Regions from separate parts of the Homo sapiens genome. Here region 2 is linked to region 1. Evidence: fine-mapped expression QTL. A gene starts in region 1. The other region holds a variant in brackets. All regions are shown on one strand. Distances are between the middles of the regions.

What was found.
Region 2: its variant is fine-mapped to the expression of BRD3 in whole blood (TOPMed, PIP above 0.99).

Annotation. Positions count from the first base shown.
Region 1 is chr9:134,062,647-134,072,984 of GRCh38, reverse strand. It overlaps BRD3 (bromodomain containing 3), which reads left to right and starts at 4,959. Exons shown (of 12, transcript NM_007371.4): 1 at 4,959-5,040. RefSeq lists silencers at 4,354-5,083, 5,264-5,513 and an enhancer at 9,485-10,338.
Region 2 is chr9:134,023,171-134,033,508 of GRCh38, reverse strand. It overlaps BRD3OS (BRD3 opposite strand), which reads right to left and starts at 8,028. Exons shown (of 3, transcript NM_001355256.2): 1 at 7,973-8,028; 2 at 7,419-7,664; 3 at 1,922-7,301. The coding sequence starts at 6,761. The coding sequence ends at 6,507. It overlaps BRD3 (bromodomain containing 3), which reads left to right. Exons shown (of 12, transcript NM_007371.4): 12 at 1-3,204. RefSeq lists silencers at 7,735-8,154, 8,465-8,594. The variant A/G (reference allele first, on the strand shown) is at 5,986.

The DNA of each region.
Region 1 (10,338 bases):
TCTCGAATTCCTGACCTTGTGATCTGTCTGCCTCAGCCTCCCAAAGAGCTGGGATTACAGGCGTGAGCCACTGCGCCCAGCAGAGGTAAGTATTTATTGTACCCATCTTACAGATGTGAAGACTAAGACTCAGTGGGGGTCACCTGTTCTGTCCTTTTTTTTCAGACAGGGGTTTCACTCTGCCGCCCATGCGTTGGAGTGCAGTGGCACAAACACAGTTCCCTGCAGCCTCAACCTCCTTGGGCTCCAGCGACTCTCCTGCCTCAGCCTCCTGTGTAGCTGGGACCACAGGTGTGCACCACCACACCCAGCTACATTTTTGATTTTTCGTAGATACTGGCACTCACTTTGTTGCCCAGATTGGCCTCCAACTACTGGGCTCAAGCGATCCCCCACCTCAGCCTCCCAAACTGTGGGACTGCAGGTGTGAGCCCCTGAGCCCGGCCCACCTGTCTTCTTGTCCTGCCTGCCTCCTTTTGACTGTCTTTCTGCAAGCACATTTATGCAGCTGCAGCACAGCTCTCTCTCCCTGTTCACCGGGGCTCCTAGGTTATACCAGAGACCTTTCCACTCTATGCCTTTAAGGATTTTGCTATGATTTTTGTGCAAACAATTTTCCATGTTGGGGACAGGAAGAACAGGAAAGTGAGAAGACTCAACTCCAAGTTCCCTCCTTTCCATGGGGCTCCTCACCCTTTTCTTTTTATTTTTTTGAGACAGAGTTTCGCTCTTGTTGCCCAGGCTGGAGTGCAATGGCACGATCTTGGCTCACCGCAACCTCTGCCTCCCGGGTTCAAGCAAATCTCCTGCCTCAGCCTCCTGAGTAGCTGGGATTACAGACATGAGCCACCACGCCTGGCTAATTTTGTATTTTTAGTAAAGACAGGGTTTCTCCATGTTGGTCAGGCTGGTCTCGAACTCCCAACCTCAGGTGATCCGCCCACCTTGGCCTCCCAAAGTGCTGGGATTACAGGTATGGACCACGGTGCCCGGCCTCCCACCCTTTTCTAAGAGAAGTTTAATGAACTTAGATCTGGGCATTTGCTTCCTCAAGTTAAATGCCTCACCTTCCCCTACCAAGGTGCAGTCTTCTGGAATATATTTTGTAAATGAAATATGAACCCACATTTGGGTTCATGGCTCAGGCTAGTAATTTAACCTAACTTTGCCTCCATTTTCACCTGTAAAGTAGACATAATCATCCCTACGTCATAGAACTGTTCCAGGATTCAGTAAAATGGTGTACATAAGGCTCTTGACACAGGGCCTGGCACATAGTAGGCACTAAATTATTGTATAATTAAAAACCTCTGCTCCTCCACCCTCCAGAGTTCTCTGTAGCCCAGCCTCTGCTTGGTGGAGACAGAAATTCATTTTCTTAAAAAGTTGTGCTGAGAGCTGGTCAGTCCTGGGGAAAGACACATGATAATGAAACTTTCAAGAAACTGATGTATAAACTTCAGTGCCATGATGTAACTGCTCTGCGCCTTAAGGCAGGATTCCCAACCCCTGGGCCTTGGACTGTTACTGGTCCGTGGCCTGTTAGGAACGGGGCCACACAGCAGGAGGTGAGTACTTGTGAGCCAGCATTCCCGCCTGCGCTCCGGCTCCTGTCAGATCAGCAGCTGCATCAGATTCTCACAGGAGCGCAAACCGTACTCTGAACTGCGCACGTGAGGGATCTAGGTTGTGAGCTCCTTATGAGAATCTAATGCCTGATGATCTGAGGCGGAACAGTTTCATGCCAAAACCATTATCTGCCCCCACTCATCCGTGGAAAAATTGTCTTCCATGAAACTGGTCCCTGTTGCCAAAAAGGCTGGGGACTGCTGCCTTAAGGGGCATTGTGGGTGAAGGAGGAGGAGGCAGCTGAGGCCCTGGCTCCTGTACTGGCTGGAGCCTGGCTCTGGGTCCTCCTTTAGATGTGAGCAGGTGGCTGCTTCACTGGTAGAGCTTGGGCTACACTGAGGTTTGCAGATGGAGGCTGGAGGGCAGGACAGAGGTGCAGAAGAGAACATTTATTCATTCAACAACTATGTATTGAGCACCCACTAGGTGCCAGATACTGTTGAAGGATGTTTAGGGATACCTCATGGACAAAGTGCTCTGCTCTCATGGAGCCGTGAGACAGCCCACAAGGAGGCTCAGGAAGTAAAACGTGAAGGTAGAGAGGTGAGTGATGGCCAAGGAGGCAAAGGCAGCAGCCTGCTCCTGATCACAGCCCCAACCTTTGCACATGCCCCCCTCCCTTACCAGAGCTGCGGGATCAGGTTCTATTTTTATCCTCCTGTGACAGGGGAGGAAACCTGGGTCGGGGAGATTAAGTGGCTTCACTTGGGAAATTCAGCAGTACCAGAGGTTAAAATTCCAAGAGCCTGAGCAGGAAGGGAGAGGATGATGGGCTGCTAGGGGCTGGAGGGGACTGCAGAGCCACCCCAAATCCCTTCTCAATGGCAGCCCTGCTGGCTTTCAGCTGTTTGCCACTGTGGCCCCTAAACTAGTCTTCAGAGATAGTAGCACAGGGGCTGAGATGCTCAAATGAGAGTTTCTGTCCTGTTCCCTTACAGATTCTGCTTCCTAGAGACTTCTCCAGCCTCGGGAAAGTTGGCTCCATGGAGCCATCCGGGCCACTCATGTGTGGGTGAGCAGCGGGAAGGGAAAGAAGGGGACCTTGGTGCTTCCATCAGAGCCAGTGCCCAGGGAGCGCCTGGGTTCCTGCCATACTCCTGGGGGTCACCTTAGGGCAGTGGGAGGCCCATAAGGGTTGGGGGCATTTGGTCAGCAGCCTCAGACACGCTGGCTGGTCAGGGCAGCCTGCTGTGTGCATGTACCTGGGTTCCTTGAGGTCAAGACCAGGCGGAAAGGCTTTTTGTTCTAGCCTTGGGAGGAGTGCAGTGGGGTCTGTGTAAGTGGTGAGGTGGCCATCCTGGTGGTCAGAGTGCTCAAGATACCCAAGGAGATGAGATGCAGACAGCAGGAATGGGTTGCAGCCTCCAAGGTGGCTAACACAGAAGCCTGTAGGTTGAGGAACTGCACCGGGGGTTTGGGGACACAACCAGGATGGTAGTTCTAAGGGAACTGCCTGCAGATCCTCACCTCTCATATTCCCCCTCCCCGACCTTCCTGCGCCTGAGGACTGCACTTTGTCCATTTTGCCAACTAGAAAGGCAAGGCTGGAACCTCGTCCTAGAGCCTTGCCCTGGAGTGTGAGAAGGTCCTGGGCTCCCAGCAGAAACAGAGGGACAGGATTGGGAAAGGTGTTGGCTTCCCCTGCAAACTCTTCCTAAGACCCCGGGGCTTTGGGTCTCAGCCGTCCTGCAAATTGGCTCTGTGACCTTGGGCAGGACCCTTTGCCTCACTGAGCCTGTTTCCTTACCTGTCAGCCTGGAACAGAACACCTGCCTTCTGGGTGAGCATGGGGATGAATTGTCTCTGTGCTGGCACTCACTTTGTGAATATTGCATAGATGTGTGCATTTCAGGCAGTGGAGCTGCTGCTCAACTTGGAACACACCTGGGGACCCCAGGGGCTTGGGGTGGGTGCAGCCCACACAAGGAAACTCGACCTTGCAGTTGGCAGGTTCAGCAGGCACCAAGGAACCTCGTTTTGTTTTTGACGTTTTTATTGGGGTCTAATGTACACAACGTGTAACCACCTTAAGTTACAGCTGGATTAAAATTGATTTATGTGGCCGGGTGCGTTGGCTCACGCTTGTAATCCCAGCACTTTGGGAGTCCGCGGTGGGCGGATCATCTCACGTCAGGAGTTTGAGAACAGCCCAGTCAACACGGTGAAACCCCATCTCTACTAAAAAATACAAAAATTAGCCGGGCGTGGTGGCGGGTGCCTGTAATCTCAGCTACTCGGGAGGCTGAGCCAGGAGAATGGCTTGAACCCGGGAGGCGGACGTTGCAGTGAGCCGAGATCGAGCCACTCACTACACTACAGCACTCCAGCCTGGGTGACAAGAGCGAAACTAACGTCTCAAAAAAAAAAAAAAAAAACAAAAACCAAAAAAACAACAAAACCCCCCCCCCCACAACTTGATTTATGTGTAAACCCGAGTCGTCATCACCCAAAACAAGATGCAAAACGTGTCCACGGGCTGAACCTTTCAAGATACAGAAAAAGGGCCAGGGGTGGCCCTCTCCCGGAATCTCAGGCTGGGAACCTGGTATCTAGTTCCCGCCCCTCACTGGGCAGATGGGGAAACCGGGGCTTGGGGCGAGAAGGTCCCCAGGCAGAGCTGGGAGCACCCCTAACTCTTCGCCAGCTCTGGGGACTTGGCGCCCTCTCCAGCAACAGCGAACTTGGGCGCCCGCGCCCCAGCAAGTCGGGTGGGGGAGATGGTGACACGGAGGGCGCGGCAGAGCGCGGCTCCTCCCCGGGCGGGGCCGACCTGCCCGCGCGCACCGACGCCCCGCCCCCCGCCCCGCGCGCGCGCTCCCGCCAGGCTAATTAGGCGCGCGGTTTGTTTACAAACACGGGCTCCCGGCAGGTGCGCGCCGCCCCGCCCGTGCGCGGCCGGGGTTCGAGGGTGGCTCCCGCGGGCCTCGGGGTGCCCGGACGGGGGCTGCGGTGCTGGCTGCGTGCCCGCTTCTTCCATGCCGTCCTGGGGCACCGGAAAATCCGCCGCCAGGCGCTGTCCCCGACACGGGGTGAGGAGAGCCGTGCGGGCCCGGGCGGGGAACGGCCCACGGGGTCCCAGCGTTGTTGCCCTGCCGGGCGGGCGCCGAGCCCCGCCCCCGCGCGCCCCCCGGGCCAGGCCCGCTCTCGGCCGGGTCGGCGGGGCGGGCGGGGGCCCCCGGGGCGGGGCGCGGCGCCGGCGGGGCCGGGACATGTAGTCCGCGCGCCCGCGGCCTCCCCTGGGCGGCCCCGGCGCGGGCCCGGCCGCGGACTACGACTCCCGCCAGGCGCCGCGGCGCAGCGCATGAGCCCTGCTCGGCTCCGGCGCGTCTATTATGCTGCCGGGGCCGGCGAGCCAAAGAGGAGCCGGCCGCGCGGGCCGGGAGGGGACGGCCGCCGGAGCCGCGAGGCCAAGTACGCCTTTCTCTTGCTTCCTTGCGCGCGCGGGGCGGCGGGCGGCGCGGGCGGCGGCGGGCCGGGCTGGGCCGGGGAGCGCGGCCCCGAGCGCCCCGCGCAGTCCGCCGGCGCGTCCGGGTGAACCGGGCGCCCGGGGCCGCCGCCGCCGCCGCCGCCTTTGTGCGCGGCCACGATGCAACAAAGCGCGGCGGCCGCCCGGGGTCGCGGCGGCGGTGGCGGCGGCGGTGGCGCGGGCTCCGCTCCCCTCCTCCCGCTCCCGCTTGGCCGCCTCCGTCCCGGACTCGGGGCGTCGCTGCGGCCGGGGCGCGCAGCCCGGAGTTGGCGCGGCCCGCGCGCCCCGCGCCAGCCCGGCCTCCGCGCGCCCTCCCTCACGGAAGGGATTTTTTTCCCCCTTTCCTCCGCCCGCCATCTTTCGAAGGGGGAACCCAGGGAGGACGCGGAGGGGGAAGGTGCGCGCGGCGGCCCCGGCCTGCGGCCGTGCGCTCCGCGGGGCCACTTTCCCCGCGCCTGTTCCGCCGGCCTCGCTCCCGAGCCGTTGCTGGGGCCCGCGCCTGGGGACCGTCGCCGCGCGCCGCGGCCGGGGCGGGGGGCAAGGCCGGGCTCGGCCCTGGGCTCTGCGCGGCCTCCTCCCAGAGTTACGGGCCCAGAGCTGACTTTGAGCCCCCCTGAGTTGCCGGATTATTGCACCCAAACCAGGGGGAGACCCAGTTCCCGTTTTGAAATCAGCCTGAAAATCGCTTAATCCGGGCGAGGGCGAGTTGGAGCGGGAGGGACGGGGGTGCTTCCCCTCCTTCCCACTTTTGGGGGGCGCCGGAGTGACAACGTGATACAAGCCCATCCGGGGAGAAATGCGCACCCCGAACCGTGTACACCCACATGGCCCTGGTGGGCTCTCTGTGAATAAAGCTGGGGCGTGCGGGAAGTCTTATTCCACCGGTTGCTCGTTCGGGGGCAGGGCCGGGATGGGGGCTTCGCGCGGCCTCCTTTCCCTGGAGGGCGAGAACTCGGCCCGCCGAGACCCACCGGGGGCAGGGACCCGGCGTCCATCGTGTGGGTTCCTCCGTTCGACCCAATCCTTGAGTGGTTGCGATCTTTAATTTTGGTTGAAAGCTTTCTGCTCAGAAATAGATACTGGGATTTCTCCCCCTTACATTAAACTTGGTCATTGTCTGCAAAAGTTAACCAGGAGGGGAGACTGTAGTGCATTGGTGGGCAGAGTAATTGGGCTGGAACTGCAAGAGGCAGCTTCGTGTGTCCCGTCCTCCCCCGCCCTACCCTGTGAGAAGGAACAGAAGAGGAAAAGAGTTTTCTTTTTACCCTGCTCTTTTGTAGGCTTTTCCCCTTACTCTTTTCTTTAAAATGGAGGGTTTTTTTTTTTTCCTGGGTCCATGTAGTATGCCTGGGGAGATCCTGGAATCTATGCAAAGTTGTATGGCATTTTTCTGGGGAAAGTAGTTTGTTACTGGCTTCCAACGGGGTCTAAGGAAGGTCTGAACCCCTGCAAGGGGCTGGCCTCGGGGGTTAGGGAGCCCTCCCTCCGGGTTCTTCCCTGGCAGCCCTGATGCAGCCTCTCATTTGCAAATAAAGGTCTGTGTTTGCCGTTTTCTCTGTTGAGGCCTTGATGGGTGCTGGTGGTTACTGATCATGAAAGATAAGGCACACGCTGTAACAGGACGGGCTGCAGGCGAGCGAGGGGCATTTCTTTCTGACCTTCCGGGTAGCCTCAGAGGCCCGGTGCCTCAGCAGGGCACCGGGTGCCTGGAAAGACTGTGGGAGCAGCTCCAGCCTGAGCCCTGCCGTTGGGACATCCGGGGAGGAGGGATTTCAAAAGCTTTCTCCGAGTGGGCAGTCACTCCATTTTTATTTTTGTTTTGTTTTTAGAAAGTAGAGTAATTACTTTCCTTTGACAACAGCTCGCGCCTGCTTCGGAAGTGAGTGAGCTTTGAATGAAGGACGGGACTTGCAAACAGTGCCTGCCCTACACTCCGAAGTAGTCATACCCAGAAAGTGAAAGTGGGGGTGTGCAGAGCGAAGCAGCCAGGCCTGCTGCAGCCGGTGCTACCTTCCTCTACCCTCTTCCTCCAGGCTCTGGAGATGCCAGCCGCGGGAGCCCTGTGCACCAGGCGGCAGTGATGGCCTTGTGCGATTCCTGGTGCCACCAGGAAGTGCCACCACTTTCCCTGAGGCATGGTGGCTCAGGGTTTCCCAAGTGGGGTGATTGGCACAAAACCAACAGCTATGCCCAGTTGTCGATGGGAAGAGCCATGTTTTGCTGTGGATACACACGGTACCGGGGCGGGGTATGGGGAACCGGGGCCTACTCTTCCCAGCGTTGCTGCCTGGGAGGTGGGGGCATGCCTGAAGTCGTGCTGCGGGTCTCTTGGTTTTCAAAGCAGTTAACGCAGTTGGTCAGAGGATCCTCCTCTTGCTTCCTTGACCGGTCATCAAAGTATAACTGACCTGACGGGGTTCCTGTCCTAGGCAGGTTCCTTTTTTTTTTTTTTTCTCTTCTCCTCTTGAGATGGAGTCTCGCATTGTTGCCCAGGCTGGAGTGCAGTGGCACGATCTCAGCCCACTGTAACCTCTACCTCCCGGGTTCTAGCAATTCTCCTGCTTCAGCCTCCCAAGTAGCTGGGATTACAGGCGTCCGCCACCACGCCCAGCTAATTTTTTGTATTTTTAGTAGAGACAGGGTTTCACTGTGTTGGACAGGCTGGTCTCGAACTCCTCACCTCGTGATCCACCTGCCTTGGCCTCCCAAAGTGCTGGGATTACAGGCATGAGCCACCGTGCCTAGCCAGCAGGTCCCTTATATCACGAAGCCAGTATCTGGTTGAAGCTAGAAGGTAACTGGATGAATCATGGTAGAATGCAAGGCTTCTTGCCGTAAAAGGTTTTGGAACTTGCGGGTCTGCCTTGGGCCTTCCCGACCCCTGTGGCTCCGCCCCCTTGTTGGAGCAGAAGAGATGCACAGGTAGCAAAGCATGATGGGGTGCCAGGTGCATTTGGGTCAGCGTTTGCCAAGAATGGCCTTGCTCCTGTGTTTTTGTTGGTACTGCCACCTTGTAGAGGTGCCCAGCTGGTGGCGGAGCATAGGGTTTTCTTTGCCTATTCTCCTTCCTGTGAAATCATGGGCACAGACATCATGGGCCCCTGTGCCCGGGCCTCCCTGCTCTGGTTCCTGGGCTCCTGCCATCTGAGAGGCTTGAGGGCTTGCTTATTTGTTTGTTTGTTTGTATTTTTAGTAGAGATGGCGTTTCACCATGTTGGCCAGGCTGGTCTCAAACTCTTGGCCGTGAGTGACCCACCCGTCTCTGCCTCCTGAAGTGCTGGGATTACAAGCGTGAGCCACCATGCTCGGCCAAGATGCTTGAGAGCTCATTTATTTATTTACTTATTTTGAGACAGAGTATCACTCTGTTGCCCAGGCTGGTGTGTAATGGCATGATTTCCCTTCACTGCAACCTCCACCTCCTGGGTTCAAGCAATTCTCCCTGGCTCAGCCTGCCAAGTAGCTGGGATTACAGGTGCCCGCCACCACGCCTGGCTATTTTTTTTAATTTTTTTTAATTTTTTAGTAAAGATGGGGTTTCGCCATGTTGGCCGGGCTGGTCTTGAACTCCTGACCTCAGGTGATCCACCCATCTCAGCCTCCCAAAGTGCTGAGATTACAGGTGTGAGCCACCATGCCTGACCGAGAGCTCTTTTAAAGAGAAAGTGTCACTTTGGGCCATTCACCTGTTGGTGGTTTAAATTGTAAGTCTTCTGGCCACTCCTGATTGAGCTCGCAGTGGAGCCAGGACCTGTGCGTGTGGCTGGAGGCTCGGACCCTGTTGTGTCCGTGCTGTTGGCTGTCTGCGTCTCGCACCAGTCTGTGGCTGTTCCCTGAGAGTCAGTTCGCAGGCTGCCTCCTCACAGGGCCTTCGGAGCCTGGTGTTGGGAAGATGGGGCGTGGAACATGCCCCCGCCCCCCTCCTTGCCGCAGGCCCCCAAGGTACTGAGTTCGTCAGAAGTTAATCCGGTATTGTGGGAGACAACTTTTCCAGCCACTTGGAAAAGTGTCCCGCTGAGGGTGCAGTGATGTTCAGGAGTCGCCGGCTGGATCTTTCTGAGTGTGGCTTGATAACCAGCTGCAGCATTTTGCAAAGCACCCAGTGGACTCGGGTGTGATCTGCAGAGGCGGCTGCTGGCCAGGCCTGGAGTCTGGGGCAGAGGGAGTGCCCTCAGTGCACCTGTGAGGACCTGGGACTAAGAGTCGGTACCTGGGAGCTGTGGGACTCTGGGGCGGGACGGCCTTAGCCTCCGTGTGAGCACTGACCGAGATGAGGCACAGATGCATCTGTGTGAGGTGCCCGGCCCCTGCAGGAGTGCTGAGTATTGTAGCTATAACCTGTCATGTGGCAGAAGGAAGAATCTACTATAAGCGGCTGAGAGGATGCCCTCCCTGTGCCATGCGTCACTGGAGCCTTGGCCTGACAATCCCACAAGGAGCAAAATGTGCAAAGGGGCAGCTGTGTGAGCCTGCGGGTCCAGGGTGCCACCCGCCCCCATCTGCCCACACCACAGGACAGAGCCCTGGGTATGCTGACCAGGCCCTCGCTGGTACCAGGGGCTGGGTAGGAGGCAAGGGTCAAGCACGGTGGCTCCGTGGGCTGTGGACTCACAGACAGATGTGCTGCATGCCCACGCTTTGCTCTTAGCTCTGCCTCCGGTCTGTCCCGGCAACAGGCCTGGGGGCGTCCTGCAGTCCTCGGCATTTGTGGTTGGGGGTGAGCAGAGAACATAGACGAAATAACCAAGGGGATGGTCTGAGAGCTGCGGCCCTGCTGGCCCCTTGTCCTGGCTCGGCATGGCTGAGTGGGACAGCAGTGAGGCCAGGCCTGTCTCCTGGGGCCGGGGTGTTTTGTGAGTTTGGTTCTTGTCAGGCCGGCTGAGAGGAGATGGAGCAGACAGATGGATGCTAGGTGGGCCTGCCGCAGCTTTGTTTTAGGAAGTGCGGAGCACCAGGGCCTGACCCTGAGGCTGTGTCCCTCTAAGAGCACGGTGTCTCCTTCCCTCTAAAGGGCCAGGTGCTGTCCTCACTCACTGCCCCTCTGAAGAGAGTCCCCTGCCTGAGTCGTGGCTCTCCTGCCCTTCCCAGACCCGTGGGAGACCCTGACTACGTGGCGGTGGCCTGGGGTTGGGAGGGCCTGACCAGTGTCTGTGGGGCCAACTTCCTCGTTCCCAGCATGTGTGGAGGGTCGGGCCTCCTCACGCGCCTCATGAGGGTCCCACGGGGGTAGAGCGTCCTTTGAG
Region 2 (10,338 bases), 39 kb after region 1:
TTCTGTTCCATGGTGTGCAGGTCTGCTTCTTAATTCAGTGTTATGATATCTTCCAGTTTTTGCTTTCATAGGTCAGAGATCTATCTTGTGTGTGCGTTAGACTTGATGAGAAGGTGTGAACTCTGCAGAAAGTCTCTTCTTCATCACTGAATTCAGTCACTTGGAGATGACAACTTCAAATGCTAACCCGATGACCCCAGAAAACCGTGTGAGATTCGTACCGAAGAACCTTGTGGAATCCCTTTGCTTAGGCCCAACCTGGTCGATAGCTCGAGAAAGAATTTTTTCCAAGGAAATGTCTCGGATATGGGTACTGTATTTGAAAGCTGTTAGCTTTGTCAACACGCATTGTCCTTGTCATTTGGGCCCCGAGCTCTGACCCTCGTGTCTGACGCGGCCACCTCTTTCTGGAGGGGCTGAGGACAGATGTGCCTGCTTGTGGAGACCAGGCTGGGCCTAAGCGAAGGGTCATCGCAGCCCCAGCCCGGAGCGTGGAGCCCTTGGGGGGTGGTCGGGTGGGATGTGCGTTCTCCGCTCGTGGTGATGTCAGGAGCTCCTCGGAGGGAACAGAGCGGCTGTGTATGCAGCCTGCAGGTTTCCATACACTGAAGCTTTTACCTCAACTTTAAAAAAAAAAAAAGAAGAAAAGATTTAAAAAAAAAAAAAAAGGAGACTTTTTTTGTAAGGTTCGGCAATTTTCTACGGAAGTCCAGCCCGCTGTGAGTCCCCGCCTGGCTAGCGCTGCCCCTGCTGCTGCTGCCGCGCCACCCTTGGGAACCACTTCCCGAGCTTATGTGTATATAAATAGTTATTTATTAACATCATTGGTCATTTTTAAAAAAAAGAAAATAAGAAAAAACCGCAGAAGAAATGCATTCACACAGTCGCAGAGATGCAGGCCTTGCCAGTGGTGTGCCGGGCGCGGGTCCTGTCTGGCGGCGGCCTGTCGTCTCCAGGTGCTAACTCCTGCCACCGCGCGGTGCTCACCCACGTCTGTTCGCGCGCTCGCCCCTGGGTTTGTTGGGTTTTTTGGTTTTTTTCTTTGTGGTTTTTTTTTTTTTTTTTTTTTGTATGAAACTTGGAGGCTTACAGGTATAGACAGCTTTCAGCTACAGCACATTCTAATTTTTTATTTTGTTTAGTTCTTTTGTATTCACTTCTGGTCTCTTTAAGACTGTTTTAAAAGAAATCAATTTAGGGAACCCCAGTTATATAATATAAACTTTGTAATCTGAGAGAAAAAATGTATAGTAAATCTAAGTCTTGATTTTTAACTTTCTATTGTAAAAAATAATAATATACAGAGTTTAATAGAAGGTGATGTTTTGGTTTTGTTTTCCCAGAGGCTGCCATATGGTCTTTGAGTACGGGGATGTCCCAAACTGGCCCACCAATGAGCATGGCGGCTCCGGCCAGGAATGCCAGAGTTAGCCTCCCAGGCTTGCGGGTGGACATGCCTGCTCCCTGCCAGCCTCCAGTGGCCTGGCCAGGCCCTCCCGAGCCTGTCTGCCCTCCCCAGGGGTGGAGGAGTCTCTGGGCCCCAGGAGGATTCCCTCCCGGAGACTCGCACGGTGCTCCCTGCTCACGCGTTGTCACAGTTAGTCCGGAAATGACTGAAACCAGGCATTCTCCCGGACCTCAGCGTGGGGGAGCCTCCAGGCAGACGCTGGGTATGGAGCTGTGGTGTGGTCTGTCCTGTATGGTGGCCAGTGCTTTCTGCCAGCATTTCTGGATGGATATAGGGACTATCATTAGTATCCTAATACACGGTGATTTTAAAACAACCATAAAATTGATTCAGAGTCCACTGACCCTTACAGATGTAGGTATACCCTTACTGGAGAGGGAACTCTGATGAGGAGATGCTGGTAAATTATCATTTTTTAAATTGCTGGTGAGTCTGACACTTGGTGAGTTTTCAGCCAGTTTGTTAAACTTTTAATTAAGTTTTGTTTATAATAAAAATATAAATGGATTTGAAAGTTTCCATTTTTTAAAGTTACCCTCGTTTTCAAAGGTATTTTCTAAACAGATCTTTAATGGACTATTTAAACCGAATTTAAGGAATTCACACACGACAGTTGACAGGTCTTCACGCAGGCTGGTTGGTAACGTGCTGCCAGCACAGGGCTGGGTGATACGTACACCCTAAGCCGGGGGTGCCTGGGGCTGGGGGGCGCTCCTTGCAATGCCCCTCCAGCCACAGGGCAGTGAGGTGCTGCCTGTGTGAGCCGTCGGGGGAGCGGCCGGCTGTGGGGGCAGCGCAGCAGGAGCATCGTGGGGCCTTTCCTTCTCGGCTGGTTCTCTGTGACGGTGGCGTCGGCTCGCCTCTGCTCCTTTCATCTAGAAAGAAGCCACTGACCCTGACAGCCCACGGCGGGTACACTGAGCAGCTGCATTGGTGCTGTCACTTTTTTAAGGCTTTCTGTCCAGACTTCAACACTGGTTTCTTTTCAGAGTTTCGAAGGATTAATGACTTCCTCAGCGCCCTTGCTGGCGGGCTGAGGGTGACAGTCACGTCCGTTTCTTCTGTATTAGAAGGCTGCGGTGATTCAATTAGATTGTCCCACTGCTGAGACCTGTAGGGCAGCTTCTAACATGCTTTTTTCAAGGGGAGAGGAGTAGTGACAAGTCGTGTGTCGGAATTGGATTTGAGAACACTCTGAATGACCCCTGGAGGCCGAGGGGGCAGGCTTCGGGCGTGAACTGAACTCCAGACCCCTCTTTGTGTTGGGCAGTGTCATCTTGCTTACAAACTGTAAGACACATTTTTTTGTGTGTTTGTTTTTGTTGTTGTTCTTTTGCAGCACTCACGCCTCTGACAGTCTTTTGGGAAAGAGTAACACCCACATACAGAATTTGTCACATCCAGAGTAGCACTGTTCCTTAATACTGGCATAATGCTTCCAGGAAGTTTTTCTTTTTTATATTTAAAATGTTACTTTTCTGTATGATGTGCATGCAAGTTTACCGTAACTTTTCTTAAACTTTTTAGTGCCGTTTCTAGTATATTCCTGTAAATGTCAGTTACTGAAAATGAGTCCAATGTAAGTAGTTTAGCTTGTTTATTGCAATGCTGGCCTCAACACAACAGAATAAAAATGGTAGAAAGTACTCTTTGATGTTTCTGGTAATCATGGACCCTTCTCCTGGGGCATTTGTTTTGTTTTCATAATAAAAAGCAAAAAAAAAAAAAAAAAAAAAGACTGTTTTTTTTTTTTGCATTTTCCTGTGCTTTCTGTGGGGGCTCCCAGCCTCTCTCCTGGAGCCTGGAAATGTCTGGAAGCACCTGGTCTGGAACAGCCTTCACTGGTCCACAGCAAGGGTGCTGAGCTCCCCACACTTGACATCCTGTAACTCTTGGCAAAAACACCCAGAGCATCCAAAAGGGGCCCCAAAAAACCATTTAAAGGCAGGATGCAGTGGCTCGTGCCTGTGATCACAGCACTTTGGGAGGCTGAGGCAGGAGGATGGCCTGAGGCCAGGAGTTTGAGGCTGCAGTAAGCCATGATTGCATCACTGCACTCCAGCCTGGACAACATCTCTTAAAAAATAATAATAATCAAACCATTAAGTAGCTCTTGTCCTGAGCCCTGGCAGGATGAAGGGAGCATCATTTCTTGCCTCACTAGGAAGCCACAATCCCCTTTACTGACAGTTCATTGGTTCCCTGGAACAAGCTGCCCTCTTCGAGACAGCCAGGTTCTGTGCTCTTCTAGTCAACCTGGCCGCTTGTCCCCTCCCTCTGCACCTCAGTCTATCCTGAAGTGGCTTGTGATGCGCTCAGTCTAATGGAAATGCAAATAAAATCCCAAAAGCAGATTTTCATAGTGAGGTTTAACTGCCAGACTGGAGGCTGGCGTGCAGCGCGGCTCGCCGAAGAATGACAGCTCTGGAACTAGGCCTGGAAGAGACATGCCAGGGGAGAAGGTTCTGGCTGGGCCCACGTCTAGGCCTGAGGACCTGTCCAGCCCGACCCCAGATGGGGTCAGGGGGCACGGTGACACTCCTGGCCAGACTGTGACCCTTCTCATCCAGACCAGCCTCCTTGAGGACGGACATGGGGCCTTGTCCGCCCCAGGCAGATGGTGTCTTCCTGCAGCCTAAGCGGCTTAGTGCCAGCTCCTTGTGCGTGGCCCACACGCCCTGACCCCTGCAGAGACTGGCCCTTGAGCACACATCCTGCCAGCGTTGCAACGTGACCTCAGACCCCATTCTGCATGTCTGCGCTGCCTCCCATGCTTGGGGCCAACCCCGCCACAACCCGTCCTCAGGGGAGTCTGTGGTGCGGTGAGAAGGTGGCACACAGGCATTCCAGATTTGCCTCTGGAGTTTGCTTTCTTCCCAGGCAGGACTTAAACTGAAGAACTGAAAAGATGCAGACAAACCCTACCTAGCGGATGTGGAGTGCTTCCTTGGCGGGCCCGCCTTGCTGTGGGAGTGTCAGCCGGCGGGGCAGGTCCTCCAGCCCCATGCTCACTCCCTCTGCAGCTCCATGCGGCAATCCTGGAAGTCTGACTTCAAATCTCCCAGCTGCAGGCTGCAAACAAGCCAGGACTCTCGCAGAAGGGACTCGGGCTGTGCAGGAGGCTGCTGCCGACCAGGCCTCTGGCAGGACATTTGGGGAATGCACTTTGACCCAGCAGTTCCACTTCTAGGACGTTTGCGAATGAACTTGCACAGCTGCAAAGAGAAGCACGAACAGAGTACAGGCACATTCAGAACATGCTGTTTGCACAGATGACAACCTGGATGCTGTCACTGTGCCCGTCTGTGGGCTCACGGGAGAGCTGCGAGTCAGAGGTTAAAAGCATGAAGTGGGCCGGGTGCGGTGGCTCACGCCTGTAATCCCAGTACTTTGGGAGGCCGAGGTGGGCAGATCACCTGAGATTGGCAGTTCGAGACCAGCCTGGCCAACATGGTGAAACCTTGTCTCTATTAAAAATAGAAAAATTAGCCAGGCGTGGTGGCAGGCACCTGTAATTCCAGCTACTCAGGAGGCTGAGGCAGGAGAATCGCCTGAACCCAGGAGGCAGAGGTTGCAGTGAGCTGAGATTGTGCCATTGCACTCCAGCCTGGGCAACAGAGTGAGACTCTCTTAAAAAAAAAGAAAAGCATTAAGTGAATGCCCAGTCTGTACAGTTGAGCAAGAAAGAAAATGGCGGATACAAGAGGCATGGTGCAGGATGAGGCCGTCAGAATCACGTGACCGTGTGTGCATGCTGAGGAGCTGTGGGACGCATCCCCAGCTGCCGGCCGGGTTCTCCCCACGGAGAGCACTTGTGCTTTGCTTTATGCCTTTGTGTATTGCAGTCTTTAGCAATCAATTACATATTACTGCTATAAAAAATGGGAAGCCAAGTAGGATATTACGAACAAGGATAAAAATAAGTGTGAGGAAGGGGAGGAGTGTATTAAAGGATGTTTATTTAGAAAAGAAAAATTAGCTTTGACAAGAGACACCTGCACATTTGTGTAGCCAAGGAGATGTCAGTGAGAGCAGAAGGTGAATCCTTCATGGAGACTGAACACAGGTGGCCAGCTGTGGCAGCGACAGTGAACACATGTCAGTGTCGGCCTGGGGGCAGAGTGGTTGAATGCTTTAAGTCTGGTGGAGAGCCTGCCTTGCTCAGCCCTGTTACTACATGGAAGTCACTGTAGGCCACACATGTGCAACTTACAACTCTCGGGTTTCCTGAATGTGTTTTGGATGCACTGGCCAGTGGGCCGCAAATGCTTGGAAGCTACCATGATGCTTCACAGATGATGATCATTTTGGTAACTCAAAATATAAATGCGGGCTTGGTGCGGTGACCCATGCCTGTAATCCCAGCACTCTGGGAGGCTTGAGCCCAGGACTATAAGACCAGACCAGCCTGGGCAACATAGGGAAACCCTGTCTCTATATACAGTAGTTCGCCTGGAGCCACAGCTACCTGGGAGGCTGAGTTTGGGAGGATCACCTGAGCCCAGGAGATAGAGCCT[A/G]CAGTGAGCTGTGATTGTGCCACTGTATTCCAGCCTGGGTAACAGAGTGAGACCCCGTCTCAAAAAAGCAAAATACAAAATGTAATGCGACAAAGCTCCTGGTGAGATGCTGCTGCTACTCCGCCATTTATGCTAAAAACAAAAAACTAAAACCTAAAAAACTTGAAAAGGTGGTTTGTAATGGGGATGGGAGGGTTACTCTTGGCCTGGTTTAAACCAAGCATCTAGCAGTGCCCGGGCCTATGCTGTCCCTAGCAGCACCTGGAGAATTCAAATGTCACAACAGCTGACCACGGAGGGGACTCTAGAGGGGAAGTGTCCTGTGCACCAGTCACACCGCGGCTGTGCTGAGGGGTTCGGGGGCCAATTCTGCGCTTCTTGGGTTCTTACACCACAGTTTGATCTTCACGTTCATTATTCAAAATCTTCCAGCAAGGATTGGAAATCAACAAGACAACTGAATGAAACTCAGGTCTGTTTTCCTCAAAGTGTGGTCCTGGGTTCAGGTGCTCACATCGGAATTACATAATTGTGCAAAACTTGGACTGCCCTGTGTCCCTAGAGACCTCGAGCTTGTTTTTGTCTCGGACCAAGATGGCCTCATTTCCATACTGTGAGTACCACATGCTTCGGCTCCTGCTCAGGTACGTCCCAGGTGGCACCGACTCCAACTTCTGCTGTTGCTGCTGCCAGATGAGCAAGGAGGTGTCCCTGTACCGGAGGCGGGCGTAGCCTTCAGACAAGGCCTTCTCTGCCAGGGGGACACGGCCACTCATCCCCTCCCCCGTCCCGCTGGACTCCTGGGAACCCTGCTGTTCTGAGACGGCCCACGCGCACTAAATTAACGGACAGCTTTCCCAGCTTTGGGGCTTAAGGATCCCTCGTTTAACTGAATGGTAGAAATTAGGAATTCCGCCCATTTGCAGGCAACGTCCTCAGGAGGGTTGTGTGGTGAGGAAATGAGGCGGCCTCACCATTCTGAAGACACCTGAGACCCATTCAGGGGACCGCACACAGGTCAGAGCGGCGCCCGGCCACAGCTCTTCCGGGTGCAGCTGTGTGGAATTGACAGGGACGAGGCGTCACACCCTGGGGGGTGATTCTGCCACCATGGCCTGGACCACTGAGCTTGAAGAGATGGATCCAGTGCCCTGAGGAAGGGACATGGTGGCCCCAGACGCAAGCTGGAAGGAGCTCCGGTGGCACGCCCCGCACGCATCTGTCCGGGCCAGCTTTCAGGGCAACGGCTGTTCTGACCCACCCTGGGGATCCAGCCCCAGCGTTTGTTCAGGTCTCGTCTCTCCCCAAAGGTGCTGCTGCAAAGGAACGAACGTGCTGTCAGGAGAGGGGAAGTCAAGCGCCCCGGCAGCGGCGGCAGTCTGCAGCGCAGCATCAAGTCTCTGGGGGTCAGCGGCCTAGATCGAGCTACTTACGTCCCGTGGGGCAGCCTGGGAGCTGGGTGGAGAGTGAGACGGGCGCCCAGTGCCAGCTTTTTCAGTCACTGGGAGGTGCTGGGGAGGCTGCTTGTTGGGGCTTCAGGGTCTCCATCTGTGAAACAGGAGCCAGCGGCGCTTGAAAGGGCGCGGGTTCCCGGAGACGCCGCCAGGCGTCAGCCCCGGGACCGGAAGGGGCCCCCAGGGCCGCCTTGCTGCTCCGAGCATCCAGCTCCCGTGAGGCCCCTGGACCCAAACAAAAACGATGTCAGGAGAAAACAAACAGGGAAGCATCGCAACCCACTCCCGAACGCCTTCCCAGCTGCGCAGCGTCAGGGACCTCCCCTCCTGGGATGCCTGCGCTAGGTCAGCCTCAGCTTCCCGGGCCCCCATCGCGCGTCCCCGCCACCTGCGCGCACCCTGGGGTCCCCGTCGCGTGGCCCGCGGCCCCCATCCCCGCGCCCCAGACCCCGCGCGCTCTGGGTCGCCCCATCCTCCAGCCCCCTATCGTCTGCCCGCATCCCCGGGTCCCCCACGTCGCCCGCCCCAGTCACCGCTCGTCGCGGGCCTCGGAGATGCGGGCAGCGGCGCGACGCACTGCGGGGCTCCCAGGGCGGGGCCGGCGGCCGCTGGGCCGTGTCTCCATGGCAGCGCCGCAGGCCTGGCGAGCCGAGCGCAGAGGCTGGGCAGGCGTGTGCGACGAGCCCAAGCCATCGATCGCTCCGCGAGGAGGGGCTGGGCCCGCCCCGAATAGGAACTGGAAGAGGAGGAGGAGGGGCTGGAGGAGGAGGGGCTGGAGGAGGAGGGGCTGGAGGAGGAGGAGGGAGGAGGAGGAGGAGCTGGGAGAGGAGGGGCTGGGAGAGGAGAAAGGGCTGGATGAGGAGGAGGGGCTGGAGGAGGAGGAGGGGCTGGGAGAGGAGGAGCTGAACGAGAAGGAGGAGCAGAAGGAGGAGTGGAGGAGAAGGAGGAGCAGGAGGAGGAGCTGGGGGAGGAGGAGGAGCTGAGAGAGGAGGAGGAGATGGAGGAGGAGGGGCTGGATGGTGAGGGGCTGGGAAAGGAGGAGGGGCTGGGAGCGGAGGTGGGAGGAGGGGCTGGCAGAGGAGAAGGGGCTGAGGAGGTACTGGAAAAGAAAGAGGAGCAGGAGCTGGAGGAAGACGTGGAGGAGGAGCTGGAGGAGGATGAAGAGAAGGAGTGGGACGCCCACAACCCTGTTAGTAAGACACTGCCGGACTGTATGGTCTTATCATCTTGGTTTTCGTATTTCTGCTTGTGTGGTTACTTTTGCCACTGCTGTTACTGCTTTTATTAGTATTCTTACTCTCAGTAATTGATACAATTATTTTTAATTAATTAAATGTCCGGGCTTACTATCTCAAAAATAGGTCTTGAATTTCTCCATCTCATCCAACCAAGCCAGGCCTCTATACTGCTCATTTGGACTCCTCAACAGCCCCATGAAAGCAAGGTCTATTTCCTTTTCTCACTCCACCTCCAATCATACTCCAATAGCACTCTTTTAGTATCTACCCTTTTCCCCTAATTTTATGGTTTTCTCCAATGCCAATTAAGAAAACTAGCATAATGGAACCTGGTGTGGTGGCTCACCTCTGAGTCCCACCTACTTGGGAGGCTGAGGCAGGAGGATCCCTTGAGCCAGGAGTTCGAGGCTGCAGTGAGCCATAATCATGCCACTGCACTTCAGCTGGGACGAAACAGCAAAACCCCATCTCTAAAAAAAAAGAAAATAAGCATAACAGACATCCAAGGAAGATGCTTAGTGTGAGCACTAAGCCCACAGCTGTGGAACGCACATTCTTTTTTTTTTTTTTTTTGAAAGGGAATCTCACTCTGTCACCCAGGGTGGAGTGTGGTGGCACGATCTCAGCTCACTGCAACCTCCGCCCCCCAGGTTCAAGCGATTCTCCTGCCTCAGCCTCCTGAGTAGCTGGGACTACAGGCGCCGGCAACCACGCCCAGCTAATTTTTGTATTTTTAGTAGAGACAGGGTTTCACCATATTGGCCAGGCTGGTCTCGAACTCCTGACCTTGTGATCCGCCTGCCTCGCACTTTCTTCACAAGTACCTACACAGGACGTTTAGCAAAACTGATCACATGCTGGACCATAAATCAGTTTCAACAAATTTGAAAACGTTTAAATCTTACATGATCTCCCAGTCTTCCGACCTGGGAAAAGACAGCAACCGAAGTTATACTGCTTTCAAGAGACACAAGAACAGGCCTGTATTCAAAGACCCATTTAACACTTTTACCTCTATCTGGCTGGGTGCGGTTTTCACGCCTGTAATCCCAGCACTTTGGGAGGCCTAGGCGGTCACATCACTTGAGGTCAGGAGTTCGAGACCAGCCTAGCCAACATGATGAAACCCTGTCTCTACCAAAAATATAAAAAATTAGCCCAGTGTGGTGGCAGGCGCCTGTAATCCCAGCTACTCAGGAGGCTGAGGCAGGAGAATCTCTTGAACCCAGGAGGCGGAGGTTGCAGTGAGCTGAGATTGCACCATTGCACTCCAGCTTGGGTGACAGAGTGAGACCCCATCTCAAAAAAAAAAAAAAAAAATTGCCTCTAAGCTAATATAATTTGTTCTATGCCTTGAACTAAATAATTTGAATATTTAGTTACCTGTAAGCTTCCTTTTCCTGTCGTTGTCAAAACCAAATAGGACTTATATTTCTGTTCGAAACATTTACTTATGTTTTGTTTTCCAGAGTCAAAAAGCTGTTTTTCCTTTTAAGCTATTTTATAGCTACAACAATTAAGTAAAAAATGAAGATTACCTCTCTTTTTCTACCTGATATCTCCAGAATCTGAAAATGATTTAAAATCCCATTGGCTCCAATCTGATTTGATATCAAACACCCTCCCTCTAGGCCCAGGGACAATTGCAGAAGAGGTAAACG